Regions from separate parts of the Homo sapiens genome. Here regions 1 and 3 are each reported to be linked to region 2. Evidence: microRNA targets listed by miRTarBase, many of them from high-throughput screens and not tested one by one. Region 2 holds a microRNA gene; each other region holds the end of a gene's coding sequence.

Region 1 (6,842 bases), not on the chromosome of region 2:
CTTGTTCTTAACTCCTTGGAGAGACAATGGTGGAAATTTTGGATTATCTTTAAATACTAAAATGAAAGTACAACTCTTAGTTCAAAGGAGAATAGTGATACACTTCTGGGTGAGAATTAGTCCTTAAATGAGCTTAGAGCCTGCACCAAATATAAAAGGTAGACTCAGATATTTGACCTTAGCAATGTTTCGTTAATGTTCAGGCCCATTGGAATTTTTTCTCAACTTCCTTCACTAGCAATTTGTTTTCCTTTAGGCTCTCCAGACAAAAATTATAAATCTGTAAAGCAATCAGTTAGGATAGAGAAATGAAAGAGAAAGACAACATTTATTTACTAAAAACCAGAAACAGGTGCCTGAAAACAAAAGGTCTTAATCTGTCCTTCATCTAATTCTCTCCTTTGGATTTTGGAAATGTACAAAGGTTATTGATCACAGCTCCTGCCCACGGGGAGTTCACAGTTTAATCCCCAAATCCAGGTGAGAAAGGCCCTCATTTACCAAGGCAACTGTGAATTAAAGCTATGGTATCAAAACCACATCCACTAAATTTAGGGGGAAAAAAACACTCCACCGTGAACTTGTAACACTTAAAAAGTAAGAAACTTGCTTTGAGAAGTGTGGTGTTTTTCCACTGTCCTCATCGGTTCCCTAGGGAAATTCCAAGGGGAAGAAACCGGGGATAAAGAGCTTTTTGTATTTCTCTTGGTTTTAACTGCTAAAACAATTTTTGTTCCATTAGGTTTGTAATGTGAGATCTTTCAGAGTGAATTGACACAACAGCCTCTGAGTTTATTAATTCATCACAACTTAGTCTTCATGTGTCTAAAAACAAATTGCTGACTTCTTGCAAGTTCCAAATGTACTTATGCAATGCCTTGAAAATTGTTAAATGTAAAGTTATTCCAGGATTACGAAGTCTATTCAATTAGCATGGCATACACACACACACACACACACACACACAGCATGCATAGTTTTCAGCTGATCTTTCCTGAGTTCTATTCAGATTTAGTCCAACATCAATCTAATCTGCAAGATACAGGGAGCTAAACACCATTTGAAATTGCCCCTGAGAGGTCAGCGGGCCATTAGCTCCTAGATAGAATGAATTTCCTAAAAGTCTTGAGGAATGACAAATGCCTTGAGATATTATCTCACTGCTTACCCAAGTTATCTCCCCAGATTGCTTATCAATGCCTTTCCTGTTACCCTTTTCATATTCAAAGAATGGGAAAAGTTTGCAGAAGTTTGGCTGATAGGTCTTCCCTAGCAATAAATACTCTGAAATTCTAAAAAAGCACATCCCTTGGAAAATTGCTGCCTTGCTGGAAGAAGTAAATCCCCAACTGGTTAATCTCAGCTCTGCCACCTTCCTGATTCTATCCTCAAATTCCTGGAATGGCAGACAAATGAATTACACCACCACGCTGCAAAACAGTGCAGTGTTAGCAGATTAACAAGGACATGTTCAGAGTGTAAAATGTACTCCAAATAAAGAGTTGCCAAAATTTGAGAGTTGAATTTCGTCATTCTATGGGATCTCTAATTCCCCAAAAAAATCAATGATCTGCTTTTTTTGAGGCAGCAGATAGAGTCATATTGACAGGATGAATTGGGTAGAGGGAAGGGGAGTCAGTTGGGATCTGGAGCAGTCAATTTTTCTATTATAAATGTTGGTATCTGGAGCATTTAATTTTTCTATTATAAATGTTGGTATCTGGAGCATTTAATTTTTCTATTATAACTGTGACCCACAGAGTAACTAAATTAATTTCATCCAGGGTAATTAAATGATTTTTAACTCACTCCTCCACTTCCAAATTCACAAAGTTCTAAAAACTAGTTCTAGAAGTATTTGTATTTTGTTGGGAGCACCCGTGGGGCAGGCTGTAATCGATTGTGGCATTGAGAATCAATTGTTGAGAATGAACCAATCAGACATAAGCCACGCAAACAATATGGACACATTATCTGCTACCTATCAAATCCATTGATTTTCTCAATGGTTTGACCATTCGGAGCAGCTGAAACTCCAAGGGAACTTCATTCTATCAAATACTAGAAACTCAAGTAAGTTTATATGATTAAAACATTCTCATCAGTAGCCATCTGTATTATTCCAGAAGGAAACAATTACAAATGAACCTATTTAATAGGCATGAGAGGCCAAAAATAATAAATTGAAAATGAATATTTAAAATGCCATATCCAGTCTGCAGGTGACTGGCAAGTCTCAAGTATGCAAAGATCTTAAATATTAAAAAGCAATATTAATGTACGGTACAAATAATGGGCACAAGTTCTCAGATTTTAAGGAATATTATGTGGGCACAGTTTATGCAAGAATGTTGTGTATATGAATGAAAATAGCTACAATGTCTCTTCACAATAATCCTACAAGGTGTTACTACGGCCCCCATTCCACAGGCAACCACAGGCAACAAAAGTGAATATTCAAAGAGCTTACATAATTTGCCGAAGTTCGCACAGCTGTGGAGGTTTAAAGACATTTGAGCTGAGAGGCAGAGAAGAGGACCAATTAGAGGCTGTAAGGGAAAAAAAAAGCTATCCCGGCCCCAAAAGAGCCAGTTCCCTAGTCATGATACTAGATGCCACTGCTTTCAAGCTTTTAGCCTATAATCAACCCATATTGAAACCAGATTTATGAGCTCTTCAGAGGAAAGCTTTGTGATTTTCTAAAGCAGACATGTTTGGTATTTTATAAGGTCAAACCCCCTACGGTGTAGTGTTTTTAATAAAATCAGTTCAGCAGAAATTAGAGACACACCAGTCAATTTCTAGGAAGCCTCTAAGCCATTCAAAATAAAAGGAAAAAAAAATAACATAAAAGACATAACCATGCACAGATCAATTTTTTCAACAGTGGTAGAATGTAAGGAGTTGTAGATAGAAAATCATCTTGGCAAATTTGGTCCCATGTCTCTAGTTTGGGCAAATTTCCACTCAGAAAGGAAAATTCCTTTTGGGGGGAGTTCTATGACAATATTAAGCAAGGGTTGTTCCTGGTTAGCCTGGCCTTGTGACACCTCAGAGTAACAGTAAACATCTCTAAGACGGAAAAACAAATAAACCAGTCACCACCACTTCTGACATCACTGAATCAGGTAGACCCTGGACCTTATCTTAGTCCTTAATCTCTGGCTCCTGGCAACTTCTGCACTCTCACAGGGAAGCAAAAGTAAAATCTATATGTAGTTCTTAGTTACATCCAAAGTTGAGGTGCCTGCAGTATTTTCATAAGAAGGCGGATCTGACTTTCAGATTGGTGGTGAGGACACGTGTAAAAACTAAATGAATATCAAGAGAGAGGATTTTTTTAGGAAAAGAGGCAGGGCTGGCCTATTATGTGGCTAGAAGCGGAGCCCCAGAAAACTGAGAGGCCATGGGCACAGTGCCACCTCCCCACAGTACAGGGAGCTGTAAATAGCCTCGTGAATATACAATAGGAAGAACAAAGGCCCAAGATCAAGTGGAGAGGCTGCATGCATCCTCCATGAAGTTTGTGGTAACACCAGTCCAGACATAGGCCTCTCTGGGAGGAAGGGGTTCACTGATTTCAAAGTGTTTCAAAGCACATGACTTTAAATCCTTCATTGTTTTATTTCCTAAAGAATTGCAGAGTTCCTGGTTAACCTGTACTTGGAAAAAATGAGGTGAACCGGCCCTCATCAGGGCAAGCAGAGAAAAGAAACTCTGACTACGTAACAGATATAAAAACTGGCCACTTGAAGAATTGCTGAGCTTGCATAATGTCGTACATGAAATGAGAATGTACAAGGAGCAAGAAGTCCTTTCATCTCTAAACTACAATCTACTATAATGTGATCAAGAGCCAGAGTGGGGTTGGGCAGAGTGGCTCACACCTTAATCCCAGCACTTTAGGAGGCTGAGGCAGGAGGATCACTTGAGGTCAGGAGTTTGGGACCAGCCTGGCCAACATGGTGAAAACCCTGTCTCTACTAAAAATACAGAAATTAGCCAGGCATGGTGGTGGGTGGCTGTAATCCCAGCTGCTTCAGAGGCTGAGGCAGGAGAATCGCTTGAACCCGCGGCGGGGCAGGGGGCAGGGTGGTGTGCACCACGTGTGGTGTGTGGCGAGTGGGGTGGAGGTTGTAGTGATACATATGGCGCCACCGGACTCCAGCCCGGGCGACAGAGTGAGACTCAAAGAGCCAGAGGTGGAGGTGAGGGTGGAAATTTCACCAACAGACAACTTTGATCAATTCCCTTGACAGGTTTGAAGGGTTGGGTTCAACAATTCTTTGGCTTCCTCAAAAACTGACATACATAAAGCTTAACATCTTTTATAAAATATAAGGCATGCATGCAAGAGCTGCTCATCTTAAAAGGGACAGTACGAATGCTATCATTTATTAATATGTGTTTATTCCACAGCTTAGTTTTTTGGGGCAGGTGGTCTATTAATATTAATAAAAGAAAACCCCATACTCGAATATGCAGGCTGTAATTTTTTTTTTTTGAGATGGAGTCTCCCTCTGTTGCCCAGGCTGGAGTGCAGTGGCACAATCTCAGCTTACAACCTCTGCCTCCTGGGTTCAAGCAATTCTCCTGCCTCAGCCTCCCGAGTAGCTGGGACTACAGATGCACGCCACCACGCCCAGCTAATTTTTGCATTTTTAGTAGAGACAGGGTTTCACTATGTTGGCCAGGCTGGTCTTGAACTCCTTACCTTGTGATCCACCTGCCTCGGCCTCCCAAAGTGCTAGGATTACAGGTGTGAGCCACCGCGCCCGGCCTACGGGTTAACTTTTAAGCAAAAATTTCACATATACAAAGGAATTCAGAAGATACCCTCCATGGCATAATATTCTCACATTTAAAATAAGAAAGATCCACTGGGGGCACGGGAAGTACACAAATAAAGCATACGTTTAAATTCAGGATGGGCAATGTTATCAGGACAAAAAGTCTTATAAGAGGAAACATTGTTTCCTAGCTGTATTAGTTACTGGCTAAAGCCAATGTTCTATTTGGTTACATAAAGGATCATTTGGGAGGATGAAACCTAGTAGCAGTTATTTAAATCAATTGGTGTATCGTGTTCACTACAGAAAAGCTTTCTAAGTATTAAAAAAAAAAAAAGCATCACACTGTTGAAGCACAAGGTTTAAAATTAAGTGTGTTGTACAGTAAGGTTTGGCTAATTGGGGAGCCAAAATACTTAATTTGGCTTAGGACAAAATAAACTGGCCAATTAATCAACAGTAAAAGGAGACAGTGACTGACTTGAACAAAAAAACAGTTGTTTAGTTGGTTTTTTTTTCTTTTTTGGGTGGAGGTATACACATTGGAAAAGGTATTCCGGAACACCTGGATCAAAATGACCTTTGCTAGGTCAACTCCAGAAATTGATCAATCATATCTGACCTGGTACACATAAATTCCAGATCTCCTTCTTAGATGAAAGCTAAAACCAGAGTTATCCTATAGCCAGAATGTGGGTAAGACACTAAAAGATGGTCAGTATACATTTAGAAACTCCACACTGTAAGAAAATTACACAGGCACATGGAAGAATAAGCAAGATCTTGGTCTTGTTTAAAAAAGAAAAGAGAAAAAAAAAAACCAAGCCACATCCTAGAGTTGAGAACAAATTATTAACAGCAAATGGCCATTTGTATAATTAACATGTACTGTCTCACGTTTCCCAGTTAAATTTATGAAAGACACTATTAAATTTCAGACAAAATATATATATTTCTTTTAAATCTTTACAATAAATCAAGATGTAGAAGCTTACATAGGGCACATTTTTGTTTATTTAGGTACTCAATTCCAGCTCCCTTGGATGCAAATAACCCTGGTGACAGTGTGTACAAAGTCTTCTCTTTGCTTTTTATAATTTTAAAAGCAAATAACACATTTAACTGTATTTAAGTCTGTGCAAATAATCCTTCAGAAGAAATATCCAAGATTCTGTTTGCAGAGGTCATTTTGTCTCTCAAAGATGATTAAATGAGTTTGTCTTCAGATAAAGTGCTCCTGTCCAGCAGAACTCAAAAGGCCTTCAAGCTGTTCAGTAAGTGTAGTTCAGATAAGACTCCGTCATACGAATTCCAGCTTCCCGTGCCCACTGTACATGCCCCAGTGAACAAGCGAGAGGATCTTATCGTTGCTGAGGTCTGCTTGTCTCATTTTATCACAGGTCAGACAGCAGTTCTCGTGCCCACTGACCGGCACCATGCATTCCAAGTCTAACTTTGCAACCTGCCCCTTTTTGGAATGGTGTCCGTGAAAGCTGTAGTGCAAACGGGAGAGCATCTGTTGCCGCTGATCCTGCAGCCTCTTATTTTCACTTCGAAGCATCCTCAGGGCCAACATAATAAGCAACACTAAAATCAGCCCTCCAGCAATGGGCACGGCAATGACCGCTGCCCGGAACCACAACTCTTTGGAAGAAGTCAGCTCCTGCACCTTGGTGATAAGGTTTCTGCTACCATCATGCTGATACCTGTTTCCTTGTCCTAAAGGAGTACAAAGAAAATGATCAAACTCCATGCTAACTCCTCCTAGGGATATTCATAATCATCAATTCATTTTAACCAAGAATTCCATTAAAAAGAAGCTTACAATTAAATCAACGATATTTAGAAAACATTGCAAAACTATCTGAAGAAGCTTACAAACGCATTTGTTTACAGACTGTCATTACTGAGATGTAATGGCCTTTTAATGTCTTCAAAATGTTGAAAAAACAGGCAAAACCTATTATGTAGACAGACATCTAATGCTCAGACATAAAAGCCACTCAATCAAGATGCATCTTTGCATCCAGCCAGGCTTCTCCCTCTGGTGTC
Region 2 (7,294 bases):
AGTGCTTTGGGAGGCTGAGACAGGAGGATTGCTTGAAGTGAGGTGTTTGAGACCAGCCTGTGCAATGTAGTAAGACCTTGTCTCTAAAAAAAACCAAAACCAAAAACCGTTTTACATTTTTACTCCCCACCCCTACACTTTGTGTTCTTGTAGTCAGTTTGTTGCCTTTTATATTGTGTATCCTTTGACAAATTTTTATCTTTTAATTTTTATATTAGGGTTAAAAGTAAGTTAGGCCCCACCATTATAGTTTTATATTAACTATATTTGTCCATATATTTTCCTTTACTCATAATATTTATGCTTTTATATGTTTTCATTATACTATTTAGTGTGTTTTCATTTCAATTTGAAGAAATAACTCTTTTAAACATTTCTTTTACGGCTGGGCTAGTAGTGACAGACTCCCTTTGTTTTTGTTTGTCTAAGGAAGAATTCATCTCCCCTTCATTTTTAAAGGATAATCTTGCCAGATGTAGATTCACGGTAAGTAGTTTTTTTTTTCCAGTTCTTTCAATATATCATCCCATTCTCTTCGGCATGCAAGGTTTCTGATGAGAAAGCCACTGATAGTCTTATGGTGATTCCCTATATGTGATGCATTACTTTTCTCTTGCAGCTTTAAAATTCTTTCAGTGTCCTTTATTTTAGACAATTTGATTAAAATGTACCTTGGTATAGTCTTGAATTGATCCTCTTTGAAAACCTGTAAGCTTCATGAATCTGGATATCCATTTCCCTCTCAAAATTTGAGAAGTTTTCAGCCATTACTTCTTTATTTTATTTTATTATCATTATTATTATTATAATTTTTTGAGAAGTAGTCTTGCTCTGTCACCCAGGCTGGAGTACAGTGGCACAATCTCAGTTCATTGCAACGTCTGCCTCCCAAGTTCAAGTCATTCTCCTGCCTCAGCCTCCCGAGTAGCTGGAATTACAGGCACCTGCCACCACACCTGGCTAATTTTTGTAGTTTAAGTAGAGACAAGGTTTCACCATGTTGGCCAAGCTGGTCTTTAACTCCTGACCTCAGGTGATCCACCTGCCTCGACCTCCCAAAGTGCTGGGATTACAGGCATGAGCCACTGCACCTAACCCATTATTTCTTTAAAAAAGCTTTTTACCTCTTTCTCTTGCTTTTCTTCTTCTAGTACTCTCATTATGCACATATTGGTTTGCTTGATGGTGTCCCATAAGTCCTATAAATTTTCTTCACTCTTTTTCATTCTTTTTTCTCCTCTGACTGGATAATTTCAAATAACCTGTCTTCAAGGGCACAAATTCTTTCTTCTGCTCAATAAAGTCTATTTTTGAAGTTCTCTATTGTGTTTTTAATATCAGTCATTAGGTTTTTTGGTTCCAGAATTTCTTTCTTTTTCTTTTTTTTTTTTTTTTCTTTTTTTGAGTTGGAGTCTCATTCTGTCACCCAGGCTGGAGTGCAGTGGCATGACCTCAGCTCACTGCAACCTCTGCCTCCCAGGTTCAAGTGATTCTCCTGTCTCAGTCTCCTGAGTAGCTGGGATTACAGGTGCACACCACCATGCCCAGCTAATTTTTTGTATTTTAGTAGATATGGGGTTTCACTGTGTTGCCCAGGCTGGTCTCAAACTCCTGAGCTCAGGCAATCCGCCTACCTTGGCCTCCCAAAGTGCTAGGATTACAGGTGTGAGCCACCACTCCCAGCCTGGTTCTTTTTTATAAGTTCTACCTTCCTGTTGAACTTCTTGTATTGTTCATGTATTCTTTCTCTGTTTTCAGATGAAATCAGACATGTTCGAGGTGGTATGGCCGTAGACTCTTTTTCTGTTTTCACTGAGTTGTCCAACTGTGTTCTCCTATTGCATGCTGAACTTCTTTAAAAACAATTATTTCTAATTGTTTGGAAGGCAATTTATAGATATCCATTTCTTTGGGGTTGGTTATTGGAAAATTATTGTGTTCCTTTGGTGGTGTCCTGTTTCTTTGATTTCGTGTGTGCGTATTTCTTGTAGCCTTGGGCTGTTTCTTTGCATATTTCATGGAGGAGTAACTTCTAGAGCATATGAACTGGCTTCATGGAGGAAGACTGTCACCTACAGGTTGGTGCAAGTGATGGCAGCAGTGGCCTGTCTGGAGTAGCCACTGTGAAGATGCCGGCTTCAGCAGGGGAAGCACAACTGGGGCTGCACACTCTGCTGAGCCCACGGGTGCCGGGAACAGGTGGGAGCCCCACCCCCTAACAAGTCAGTGGAGCAGGAGCCACATGCTCCCAGGCACAGCTGCAGCTTCTCAGCTGTAGCCACAGACCCAGGCATCCCTGAGGTCTCAGGGGCCCCGGAAGCCCTTTGTTCCCGTAGGCTTGAAAGTGCCTGCTCCCACTGCCTGGCCTCTCCCTGCTCCTGGCCCCCACTCTGGGGCAGAGCAAAGTTGTGGCAGAGCCCAGGCACTGTTGTGACCCAGCTGGGTACCCAAGCACTCAGGGCAGTGCTGACATGCCAGCCCCCTGCTGTCTCAGGCCATCCAGACTTTGGGAACTGAAGAGCACAAGAGGGAGACCAAGGGGTTGCTCAGGGTGGCTCAGTGTGGGCCTGTAGGCAAACCTCAGCATGAACAGCCTGGGCGGCATGGACAACATGTTGATGGTGACAGGAGGCAGACAGGCTCCTGGGCAGAAAGGGGCAGGTTCCCAGTGAAACGCAACCTTCAAGCCATGGATGGCATGAAGCCTGGGGGCTGGGCTGTCAGCTCCAGGTGGAGTCTGCGGCCTGGAGTGAGAACTTATGGTGCTTTTTCCAGGCCCGCCCATGGCCACCCATGGGCCAATCAGAACACACTTCTTCCTTTCTGAGCCCATAAAAACTATGTTACCTAGCTAGACTCATACAGATGTCAGGACTACCAGCTGCAGGAAGGAGCTACCCACTTCAGGTCTCCTCTACTTGTCAGTATGACCTGCCTGTGGAAAAGAGCTACTCACTCTGGGTCTCCTTTCTGCTGAGAGTTGAACACTTGTTGGGACAACCTGTCTGTGGAAAGGAGCTACCTACTCTGGGTTTCCTCTCCCCTGAGAGCTGGACACTCATCTGGACAACCTGCCTGCAGCTAGGAGCTACCTTCTCTGGGTCTCTTCTCTGCTGAGGGCTGCACTCGTCAGGACTACCTGCCTGCAGAAAGGAGCTATCCACTCCAGGTGTCCTTTCTTCTGAGAGCTGGACACTTGTTGGGATGACCTGCCTGCAGGTAGGAGCTGCCCACTCTGGTCTCCTCTCTGCTGAGGGATGCACTCGTCAGGACTAACTGCCTATGGAAAGGAGCTACCCACTCCAGGTCTCCTCTCCCCAGAGAGCTGGACACTTGTCAGGATGACCTGCCTGTGAAATGGAGCTACCCAATCTGGGGCTCCTCTCTACTGAGGGCTGAACTAGTTGGGATGACCTGCCTGTGGAAAGGAGCTACCAACTCCAGGTCTCCCAAGAGCTGTTCTGTCACTCTTTTGCTCAAGAAAGTTCCTTTCTGCCTTGCTCACCCTCCAGTTTTCTGCATACCTCATTCTTCCTGGACACAGGACAAAAATTCAGGACCTGTTGAATGGTGGGACTGAAAGTGCTATAACACAAACAGAGCTAAAACACCTGCCTCCACCCCACTCGTCACACTGCAGGCAATGAGAAGGAGAGAAGAGCTGCAGCCCTTCAGGGAGCTCAGATGCACAGGCTCCCCCAGCCAGGGCTGTGACACCCTCTTTGGGGCTCTGTGGTTTCTAGTGTCTTGGAGCTTCCAAGTGCCACCATGTTCCCCTTGTCCAGATGTGAGTGCCCAGAGCAGAAGCCACTTATAGTGCATCTGATCCAGCCACAGGCTTGAACAGAGCCAGCACCTGTGGTGGCACCTGGAACTGCCCACCCCACCACAGCAGCCAATGCTTGGCTGTGTGCAGCAGCCAGACCCCATGCTTGCTTACTTGTGCACCCCTCTCCTCTCCATGCCTGGATCATTCTTTGAAGGTGTGGGAGCCAGGCCAGTAGCATGAGCTGAGTGCAGCCTGCCAGGCCGAGTGGGTGGAACAAGCCCAGCAGGCTTGAGCAAAACTCTGGCAAAGGCACCACTGGCCACAGAGGTTTCCAACTGGAAAAGTGACACCTGGAGGATGCCATGACACAAGGATTCTGACTGATGGGTATGCAGCCCTTGGTACAACACTGAATATAAATGGTAAGAGTGAACGTCCTTGTCTTATTCCTGATCTTAGGTGGTACTATGGTTTGAATATGATTTGTTTGGCCCTGCCAAGTCTCATGTTGAAATCTGATCCCCAGTGTTAAAGATGGGGCCTGGTAGGAGTGTTTGGGTTGTGGGGGTGGATCCTTCATGAATAGCTCTGTACCATTCTCACGAGAGTGAGTTCTTACTTTTAGTTCCCACAAGAACTGGTTGTTGAAAAAAGCCTGGTACCTCCTCTAGTCTCTCTCTTGCTTCCTCTCTCACCATATGATATGCATATACCAGCTCCTCTTCACTTTCTGCCATAAGTGGAATCAGCCTGGAGCCTTCACTAGAAGCAGATGCCAATGCCATGATTCTTGTGCAGCCTGCAGAACCGTGAGACAAATGAACCTCTTTTCTTCATGAATTACCCAGCCTCAGGTATGCCTTTATATTAATAGTAACACAGACTAAGATGGGATAATTTTTTCAAGCCTTTCACCACAAAGTGACATTAGCAGTGTGTTTTCATAGATGCCCTTTATCAGGCTGAGGAAGTTTCCTTCTATTCCAGGTTTCTTGTTTGTTTTTTTAATCATTAAAGTGTGTTGAATTTTCTCAAGTGCTTTTTCATATCTATGACATGACTGTTTGGCTTTTGTCCATTATTCTATTAATATGATATATGATAATGTATGCTGAGCCTGTATTCATGGAATAAATTCCACTTTGTCATGGTCCATAAATATTTTTATATGGAGCTGGAATCATTCTGATAGTCTATATTCATAACAATAGTTTATATTCATAAAGTTACTGGAAAGAATTTGGCTGTTAATCTTATCAAGAATACCTCAGAGATGATGAGCTGCTTCTGTCTTTCTGCTTTCAATATACTCTCTGTGCCCTTGGTTTTCCAGTTGGTTATGTTGTGTATAGGTGTGCATCTCTTTGCATTTATACTACAGTATAACCTTGAACAACATGAGGGGTTGGGGTGCCGACCCCACTAGTCAAACATCCACATATACATACCTGTGAGAAGAGGGTAGAAAAAAAATCCACATACAACTTTTGACTTCCCAAAAACTTAACTACCAATAGTCTACTATTGGCCAGAATGTTACTGACAACATAAACAGCTGATTAACACTTTTTTTAATGTTATAAGTATCATATACTGTATTTTTACCATTAAGCCAGCCAGAGAAAAGAAAATAATAAGGAAAATATATTTACTATTCATTAAGTGGGTAATCAGAAAGGAATTCATCCCCTCTGTTTTCACATTGAGTAGGCTAAAGAGGAGAAGGAAAAAGAGGGGTTGGTCTTGCCATCTCAGGGATGGCAGAGGTGAGTAAAAGTTCCATATAAGTGGACCTGAACAGCTCAAACCCATGTTGTTCAAGGGTCAACTATACTTGGAGTCTGTTGAGTTTCTTTGATGTATAGATTAATGTTTTTCATCAAACGCTGGCAGTTTTTGGCCATTATTTTGTCAAGCATATTTTTTGCTCCTTTTTCTCTCTTCCGAGACTACCATTATGCATAGATTGGCATGCTTGATGGTATCCTATAGATCTGCAAGGTTCTCTTCATCTTTGTTAATCTTTTTTTCTTTCTCTTTCTCAGACCAGATTTTCTCAATTGGTTTATCTTCAGGTTCACTGATTCTTTTTCAAATATGCTCTTGAAACCCTCTAGTGAATTTTTTTGTTTCAGTACTTTTTGACTCTAGAATTTCTATTTGGTTGTTTTATTTAAAAAGAAATTATTTAAATGTCTATCTCTTTATTGATATTCTCTCTTAAGTTTTATATCATTTTCATACTTTCCTTTGGTTCTTTATACATAGTTTCCTTTAGTTCTTCAAACATTTAATATCGCTGATTTAACAACTTGGCCTTGTAAGTTTAGCATCAAGGCTTTCTGAGGGACAGTTTCTATTAACTGCTTTTTTTTTCCCAATATATGGGCCCTACTTTGAGTCTCATAATTTCCTGTTGAAAATAGTCATTTTACATAATATAATGTAACAACTATGGAAATCAGACTCTCTCCCATCCCAGGGTTTATTAATATTGCTGGTTGTTTATTTGTTTTGTTTGTTGTTGTTGCTGTTTCTTAGTAACTTTCCTGGACTAATTCTATAAAGTCTCTATCCTTTTTCAAGTGTGGTCACTGAAGTATCTGCTCAGTTTGCTTAGTCATCAGCTAAGAATTGCAGAAATTTCCTCAAATGTCTAGAACAAATAAGTCTCCATAAGTCTCCCAGGCTTTGCTAAGAGTTCCTGTGGGCACATTGTGGCAAACCTTTAACACTCAGGCAGGTAGTTCACATCTCTGCTTTAGCTGTAAATTCCTCCTTGTGCAGACTCAAGGTCAGTCAGAGGTAAGAGCTTAGGGCCTTCTCAAGTCTTTTCTGACCATGCCCATAGCTCAGGCATGTCCACAGTCCTATGTATGTGAGTAGCCTTCAGAATTTCCAGGTAAATGTCAAAGCTTTTCAAAGCCTCCATATGGACATCTCATTCCCCAGATTTCAAGTTCTTCAGTCACATTCTTGTTTGTCCCAAATGTTATTACCACCATAAGCAGCCTAATATTCATACATACATACATACATGTGTGTATATATATGTGTGTGTGTGTGTGTGTGCATGTAAGCCTTGAACAACATGGGTTTGAGCTGTGCAGATCCACTTATACACAGATCTTCTTCCACCTCTGCCATCCCTGCAACAAGACCAACCCCACCTCTTTAGCATACCCAATGTGAGTAGGATAGAGACCTTTCTAACGATACACTTCCACCTAATGAATAGTGAATACTTTTTATCTTCCTTATTATTTTCTTAATAACATTTTCTTTTCTCTAGCTTGCTTAATTACTATACAGTATATAATACATGTAACACAAAATATGTGTTAATTGACTATGTCATCGATAAGGGTTCAGGTCAAAAGCTATTAGTGGTTTTTAGAGTGTCAAATCAGGTCAAAAGCTACTACTGGTTAAGTTTTTAGAGTGTCAAAACTTATATGTGGCCAGGCACAGTGGCTCATGCCTATTATCCCAGCACTTTGGGAGGCTGGGGTGGGCAGATTGCTT
Region 3 (7,294 bases), not on the chromosome of region 2:
CAACTCAGCAGCCTGTTGCGAGGGGTGATATAGGAACACACAGTGATATACAAATGCCATGAGATGAAAGTACCCTGGAATTCTGAAGCTGGAGAACAGCTTCCCTGGAGAAGAGCCAGGAACCACAGTAGACTTTGGGTGAGCACTGGGATTTGGGACTTGTAATTGTACCATAATCCAGTTCACCTAGATCAATACTACTCCCTGTGATTCTCCTTCGTTGGGCTTCTTACATGGCTATTTTGGTGGCAATGATTAGCCTTAAGATCCATGCATTGTCTTTGCTGAAATCTTTAGGATTAAAATACCACACGATTTTCTAGTAATAATACAAAAACATAACTATTAGCTTCAAGGATCTCAGACATGAGTGTCCCTCTGTAATATTTTGTCTTATTTCAATAAAGATAATCTAAATGATGAAGGTAAATCTTCTCAACTGATCTGGGTTCCCTCAATCATCTAGAACGTCACTCAGCAAACAGGCATCAGAGGTTTCGTCAGTAACACTTGTGTTCTGTCCTGTATGTGTTCTTGCAAAAAATCAAAAAATTAATATGCTCATGACATATGGGTACGCATGACAGCTACAGCCATTCAAAACTTAGTATGGATTTAGCAGGGGGAAGAATCTATCTACATCTTACCTTTTAAATTTCAGTGAAGCCTCTTGCTAGCAGAACAAATAATAAATCCATAGTGCTCAGTATTATGTTGACCAAATCAGAGTTTCTAAGCCTAGGCACTATTGCCATTTTGCGCAGGATAATTCTTTGTTGCAAGGGGCTGTCTTGTGCACTGTAGAATGCTGAACAGCATCCCTGACCTGTATCTAGATCTCAGGCCACTAGCACACCCAAGCCCTGTTAGGACAACCCAAAATGTATCTAGACATTGCCAATGTCTGCTGGGAGACAAAATTACCCCCAGTTGAGAAGTACTGGCCTAAATGAATGTACACCTTTGTGATAGATGTTGCTCAATGATGAAAATTTAAAAAGCATTATTAAATTTGAGTAAAATAGTAATCAAGATTAATGTTTAAGAATAGACACAGTAGATATTTTAATAAAAACAATGGTCCTGCCATTTTTTATTTATCATAGCAATACATACTTACAGAAGAAAAAGAATCACACATTTTAAATTCTGATCATTACACTATTTTTTTGTAGTTGAATAATAAAAGAATGAATCTCTTAGTGACTTTTTAAAATACCTTCAATGTTGGAAAAATGCAAATTATGATATGATAAACATTCAATAACTGGAGTAAGTTCACTTCCAAATGAAAGACACTTGGCACCCAGTAACAGTAATGAAATTAAACATCACTGAAGACAGTAAGGAGGTCTGCCTGGAGGTCTCTAAGGAGGTCTGCCTGGAACCATATCTTTAGTGTAGATTCACAATCAATCCAATCTTTCAACCTACATTTTAATAATTTAGCTTTAGAAGAATAACATGTGAATCAGTTTTTCTCTAATAAGGCCCTGAAAAAGTTGTATCCTGAAGCACTATAAAGAGAGTGAAACTTTTTTGTTGGTAATCAACAGCTTCAAATATTGGTTTTTATCAACGAATTATAAATACCTTTTTATAAAAGGCCAAAGGCACAGTAAAACAATGAGTATTTGTACTTTACCATTTTAGAGCTCAAAATAATTCAGAACACAAAATAATTCAGGCGACCAGCACCTAATCTGTCCTGTAGGTGGCAAAATTATCATAAAAGGAATCCAGGCACAGGAGTCAGAATTGCTGCACTGAGGTTAATAGTGACAGATGACTTAAAGCTTTATCCGACATACAATTTTTAACTTTTTCAAGTTTTATAGATTCAAAGTGCCTTTTGTATCGCTCTGAATTAACAAAAGTTTGTCTGCATGGTCAACACCAATGCTTAAAAATATGTTTTCATTTCTCAGGCTCTGGACTTTCAGTCTGATGATCATTTCTTTTTATGATTATTCCTGAAAAATTCCTCTCCTTTTTCTCGTTTCCCAACAGATTTTGCTTTATTTTTATTTATATTTAATTATTTATGTTTTTGGAGACAGGGTCTTGCTCTGTTGCCCAGGCTGGAGGGCAGTAGCATGATCATAGCTCACTGCAGTGTTGACCTCCTAGGCTCAAGTGATCCTCCAACCTCAGCCTCCTTAGTAGCTGAAACTAAAGGTGTGCATCATGCCCAGCTTTTTGTTTGTTTGTTTGTTTGTTTTTGTTTTTGTTTAAATAGAAAGAGTCTCACTATATTGCCCAGGTTGGTCTTGAACTCCTGGGCTCATGAGACCCTCCACCTCAGCCTCCCAAAGTGCTGGGATTATAGGTGTGAGCCACTGTAACCAGCCAGATTTTGCTTTATTGTATGATCCATCTAAATTGAAGAAAGAGAGGTTGTGGAACTAAAAATCAGTTGTTACTTTTTAGCAGCTGTGAAAAGCAAACTTAAAATCAATATCTAAAAGGGAGGATATGAGGCTCACTAGATTTCATTCAGCTTTACATTTTCCCAATTATTTGTACTGGATAAAAGAACTGTAGCAAGACCTTTAAGGAGTTACAATAACTTATAGAAAATTTTGGGTACCATGGTTATGACTATGCTTATATGTAAGGAACAAAGAAGTTTATAAATGATTACAATTAAAAAGCTAACTCTAGTCAAGTAACGTTTTATCCTCAGGAGTTGATATTACTTATTTTCATGGCTTCTTTGCATCCTTACAAGATGGAGATACTAATCTATGCCCTGGATTCATAATTAAAGAGTCAGATATGAGAAACAGTCAGAGCCATCAAATAAAAACTGGGGGCAATTGCCTGGCGCGGTGGCACACACCTGTAATCCCAGTACTTTAGGAGGCCAACACAGGTGGATCACTTGAGGTCAGGAGTTCAAAACCAGCCTGGCCAACATGGCAAAACCCATCTCTACTAAAAATACAACAATTAGCCGGGTGTGGTGGTGCCCACTTGTAATCCCAGCTACTCGAGAGGCTGAGGCAGGAGAATCACTTGAACCCGGGAGGCGGAGGTTGCAGTGAGCCAAGATCACACCACTGCACTCCAGCCTGGGCAACAGAGCAAGATTCCTCCTCAAAACAAAACAAAACAAAACTGGGGGCAAGTGTTAAATATATAGTTGAAGAACTAAGAATAAATGGGGGATAAAAGGAAGAAAGTACAGTATGCTATACCAGTATGTTCTGAAAATGTTGACATAGTATAACTATTTTAAAAATTGGGATGTCGGGCGCAGTGGCTCACACCTGTAATCCCAGCACTTTGGGAGGCCGAGGCAGGCGGATCACCTGAGGTCGAGAGTTTGAGGCCAGCCTGACCAATGTGGAGAAATCCTGACTCTACTAAAAATACAAAATTAGCAGGGCGTGGTGGCGCATGCCTATAATCCCAGCTACTCGGGAAGCTGAGGCAGGAGAATTGCTTGAATCCAGGAGGCAGAGGTTGCAGTGAGCCGAGATCGTGCCATTGCACTCCAGCCTGGGCAACAAGAGCGCGAGACTCCATCTCAAAAAAAAAAAAAAATTGGGAAAGAATGAGAAAAGCAAATGAAAACTTTTTAATTGTTTCAATTGCCATATTATTTGTGGTTGTATTTCTATTGTTATTCTGAGACAGCTGTAAGTGTAAGATAAATAAAAGAAATGAGTAATTGTGGGATGTTCTAATTCTATCGTGCCCTGTGTTCTTGAAAACCAGGACTTTCAGTACAGAAGGAGAGGTACAGTTGTAACAGAAAGGTTAGATAAAAACCCTGTAGGCCGGGCACAGTGGCTCACGCCTATAATCCCAGCACTTTGGAAGGCTGAGGTGGGCGGATCACAAGGTAAGGAGTTTGAGACCAGCCTGGCTATTATGGTGAAACCCTGTCTCTACTAAAAATACAAAAATTAGCTGGGCATGGTGGCTCATGCCTGTAATCCCAGCATTTTGGGAGGCCAAGGCTGGTGGATCACTTGAGTTCAGGAGTTCAAGACCAGCCTGACCATTATGGTGAAACCCCTCTACTAAAAATACAAAAATTAGCCGGGCATGGTGGCGTGCACCTGTAGTCCCAGCTACTTGGGAGGCTGAAACAGGAGAACTGCTTGAACCCGGGAGATGGAGGTTGCAGTGAGTCGAGATCGTGCCACTGTACTCCAGCCTGGGCAACAGAGTGCAACTCTGAAAAAAAGAGAAAGAAAAGGAAAGAGAGAGAGAGAGAGAGAGAGAAGAAGGAGGAAGGAAAGAAAGACACCGTGATTTACAGTCTTGCCAAAGGACTGAACCTAAGTCTTCTCAAATTCAATGTGCCTGAACCTGCACTGTGTGCTAATATCGAGAGGACAGGGCAATGTGCTGAACCGTGCCATGAGTGTGCAATCAGCAAAATACAAAGTATGGGAAACTCTATAGGTCCTAGGATCAGGTTCTTCACCAGGTAAATTTTAAGGAACTGGAAAGAAGGAGGAACTTCTAGATTAAAAAAGAGATGTAAAATAAAATATACATTTAATAACAACTTTAAATTGATAATATTAAAATATAGATATATGCATTTAGGTGTGGCAGCAGTAATCAAATGCAACAAAGTGATTACCATTTAAATCAGTCTAGCAGTTACTTTTGTGGGGTTGTAATTGTGACAGGACACAAAAAGGACACGTGGGGTGACTGGCTGAGTCCTAAAAGAGTATTTCCTTATAATAAGGCATTCAGCTATAAATTTTGTGTCTGGTTTTCAGTACTTTTATTTCATAATTTTTAAAATGTTACAATCAAAAAAGATATCAAAGCCCTTAGGGTTTTCTACTAAAAAGTCTGGATGTGAATACTTATACTGTAAGTATCATCTGATGGTTTTTAAGAAATTGCTTATATTATAGAAATATTTCTAAATAAGCTATAAATATTTGAAAAATATTGAATTCTTATGTATGCAGTTATAAAAAGTCAAAGAATTAAGTATACTTTTCTAACACAAAATTTGTTTTGTTACAGTATTATGTAAGACAATTTGGTTAAATGGATTTTTTTTTTTTTTTTTTTTGAGATGGAGTCTAGCTCTGTTACCCAGGCTGGAGTGTACTGGTGCGATCTCAGCTCACTGTAACCTCTGCCTCCCGGGTTCAAGTGATTCTTCTGCCTCAGCCTCCCAAGTAGCTGGTATTACAGATGCCCGCCAACACGTCCAGCTAATTTTTGTATTTTTAGTAGAGACGGAGTTTCACAGAGACCAGTGTTGGCCAGGCTGGTCTCGAACTCCTGACCTTGTGATCCGCCTGCTTCAGCCTCCCAAAGTGCTGGGATTACAAGCGTAAGCCACCGCGTCCGGCCTAAATGGACTTTCTTGACTTCCAAAATTTTCCTTTCCAACTCCCATACAAGATTATTAACGTTAACCTATTAGAGATTAGAACAAGAGCATTGGAGCAGATTTCTTATTTCTTTGAATGTCTGCACTTTGTTTCACTCTCCATATTTTTTTACACAGAACAAAGATTAGTTATCGTGCCTAACCATGATGGTAGTTATTGATATGTAGCATTATACACAGAGTATTATCTAATTTGCAAACCGAGATCCTCCACCTACTTGCCTACCACCTGTCTTTTCCATGTAACAATGACTGATGTAGATAATTTTTTTTGTTGTTAGATGTGTAAGAATCTCAAGGATGTAAAACAGATTTAAACCATTAAAATTAAAGCAGTTTTTAAATGCACTATAACAATAAACATGGACAAACACATAACTGTGTTGTACATTTTTGCCCATCAATCATTGACAACTTCCCTCCCATTTGTTCAAGCAGCATCTTAAATGGTGCAATTCAGTGGTCCCTTTTCCCTTCGTTTTAATAAAATTATGTGGTGTTCGAGTGATTCACATATTCAAGAAGTGACCGGTCTAAGACTCTTCGGATAAGAGCTTCCTCAATTATATTAAAATCCTACAATAAAGAAAAATAATTAGAAATATTCAGAGTCAATAGTATTTCAGAAACTAGAGGATGAGGGTCAATGCAACACCCTCATTTTGTAGGGAACTAAAGTTACGAGACTTGTCCAAGGTTCCACAAAGCCTGTCATAGAACCCAGGACTTTTGCTTTGGGGCTAATGAATTTTCTACTTCACTTTGTTGTCTATCGATTAACTAGTTACTGTCATAATAAACAGTCTTGATTTGAAATTTGAAGTTTTTATCTGATATAATGAGAAGTTTTTAGTCACCATTACAAATCCTGGTCAGAGTGCTATGTTCCACATAAACCTGTAAAATGGAGCAAAGTTCAGGCTCCCCCACAGGCTTCACCAATGCCAGCAGTACCACTGAATGGCTACTTCTGAAGAAAATGTTAAAAACAAAACTTTCTCCTTGCCTCCTATGTGTCAAAGTGGAATTCAAAATTCTATGTCAGCACATTCTATAAGTAAAACAAAAACCATTAAGAACCCTATCCTCTGCAATCCCTCTCCTCTTCCGCAATAACAAAAGGTGAAATCTCTATTCAAAGTCCATTCTGCAATATAAAAACAAAACAAAAAAACCCCCACAAAATCCAAAGGAAAGTCATAAAGTACAGCAGAACACAAGGTTTGGTCTTGATACTGGCTTGTTCTTAGATAATTCAGTTAACCTTTGAGCTTCAGATATTTCAGTTAAATGAAGATAAAAATACAGTATTCACTTCACGGAAGTTGCTACAAGGAATAAAATGTGATATATACATATAGTGCTTAGCTTAGTATATAGTAGCTCAGGAAGCAAAAAATCAAAACAAAGAACACTACTTCCAGTTCACTTCCCTACCCAAGAATATGGCTGTGAGTGGCTGGAAAGTATTCCTATCAAAGTGGCTTCATCCTGCCTAGCTCTGGATCATGCTTTGTCTGAAAGATCTTGAGAACAGACTGAGCATGATTAGACAGAACAGCCATAGAATCGACCTGGCTTTTAGAACACCTCATAGAGCTAAGGTAAAGAGAAACCTCTTGAGACGGAGTCTCGCTCTGTCACCCAGGCTGGAGTGCAGTGGCGCGATCACGGTTCACTGCAAGCTCCGCCTCCCGAGTTCACACCATTCTCCTGCCTCAGCCTCCAGAGTAGCTGGGACCACAGGCGCCCGCCACCATGCCCAACTAATTTTCTTGTATTTTTAGTAGAGACAGGGTTTCACCGTGTTAGCCAGGATGGTCACGATCTCCTGACCTCATGATCCGCCCATCTCGGCCTCCCAAAGTGCTGGGATTACAGGTGTGAGCCACCACGCCCGGCCAAGAGAAACCT

What was found. The annotated mature microRNA hsa-miR-6500-3p reads ACACUUGUUGGGAUGACCUGC and lies in region 2 at 3,193-3,213, shown strand. An mRNA with a match to its seed (bases 2 to 7 or 8) in the 3' UTR can be bound and repressed. Matches are read on the target gene's strand: a 7mer-m8 pairs with bases 2 to 8, a 7mer-A1 pairs with bases 2 to 7 and ends in A, and an 8mer does both.
Region 1: the mRNA of BAMBI is a reported target of hsa-miR-6500-3p. The part of its 3' UTR that is shown has no 7-base or 8-base seed match.
Region 3: miRTarBase lists RNF125 as a target of hsa-miR-6500-3p. Seed matches in the 3' UTR shown: 7mer-A1 at 3,977-3,983, 7mer-A1 at 3,015-3,021, 7mer-m8 at 2,974-2,980 and 7mer-A1 at 2,881-2,887.

What each region holds. Positions count from the first base shown.
Region 1 is chr10:28,681,650-28,688,491 of GRCh38, reverse strand. BAMBI (BMP and activin membrane bound inhibitor) reads right to left here. Exons shown (of 3, transcript NM_012342.3): 3 at 5,560-6,509. The coding sequence ends at 6,091. Among named protein-coding and RNA genes, the nearest start is that of BAMBI, 7.6 kb to the right of the region's middle. RefSeq lists an enhancer at 3,709-4,617.
Region 2 is chr1:51,056,880-51,064,173 of GRCh38, forward strand. It overlaps MIR6500 (microRNA 6500), which reads left to right and starts at 3,139; the gene lies at 3,139-3,224. MIR4421 (microRNA 4421) reads left to right here and starts at 2,958; the gene lies at 2,958-3,026.
Region 3 is chr18:32,066,960-32,074,253 of GRCh38, reverse strand. It overlaps RNF125 (ring finger protein 125), which reads right to left. Exons shown (of 6, transcript NM_017831.4): 6 at 1,035-5,956. The coding sequence ends at 5,870. Among named protein-coding and RNA genes, the nearest start is that of RNF138, 21 kb to the left of the region's middle.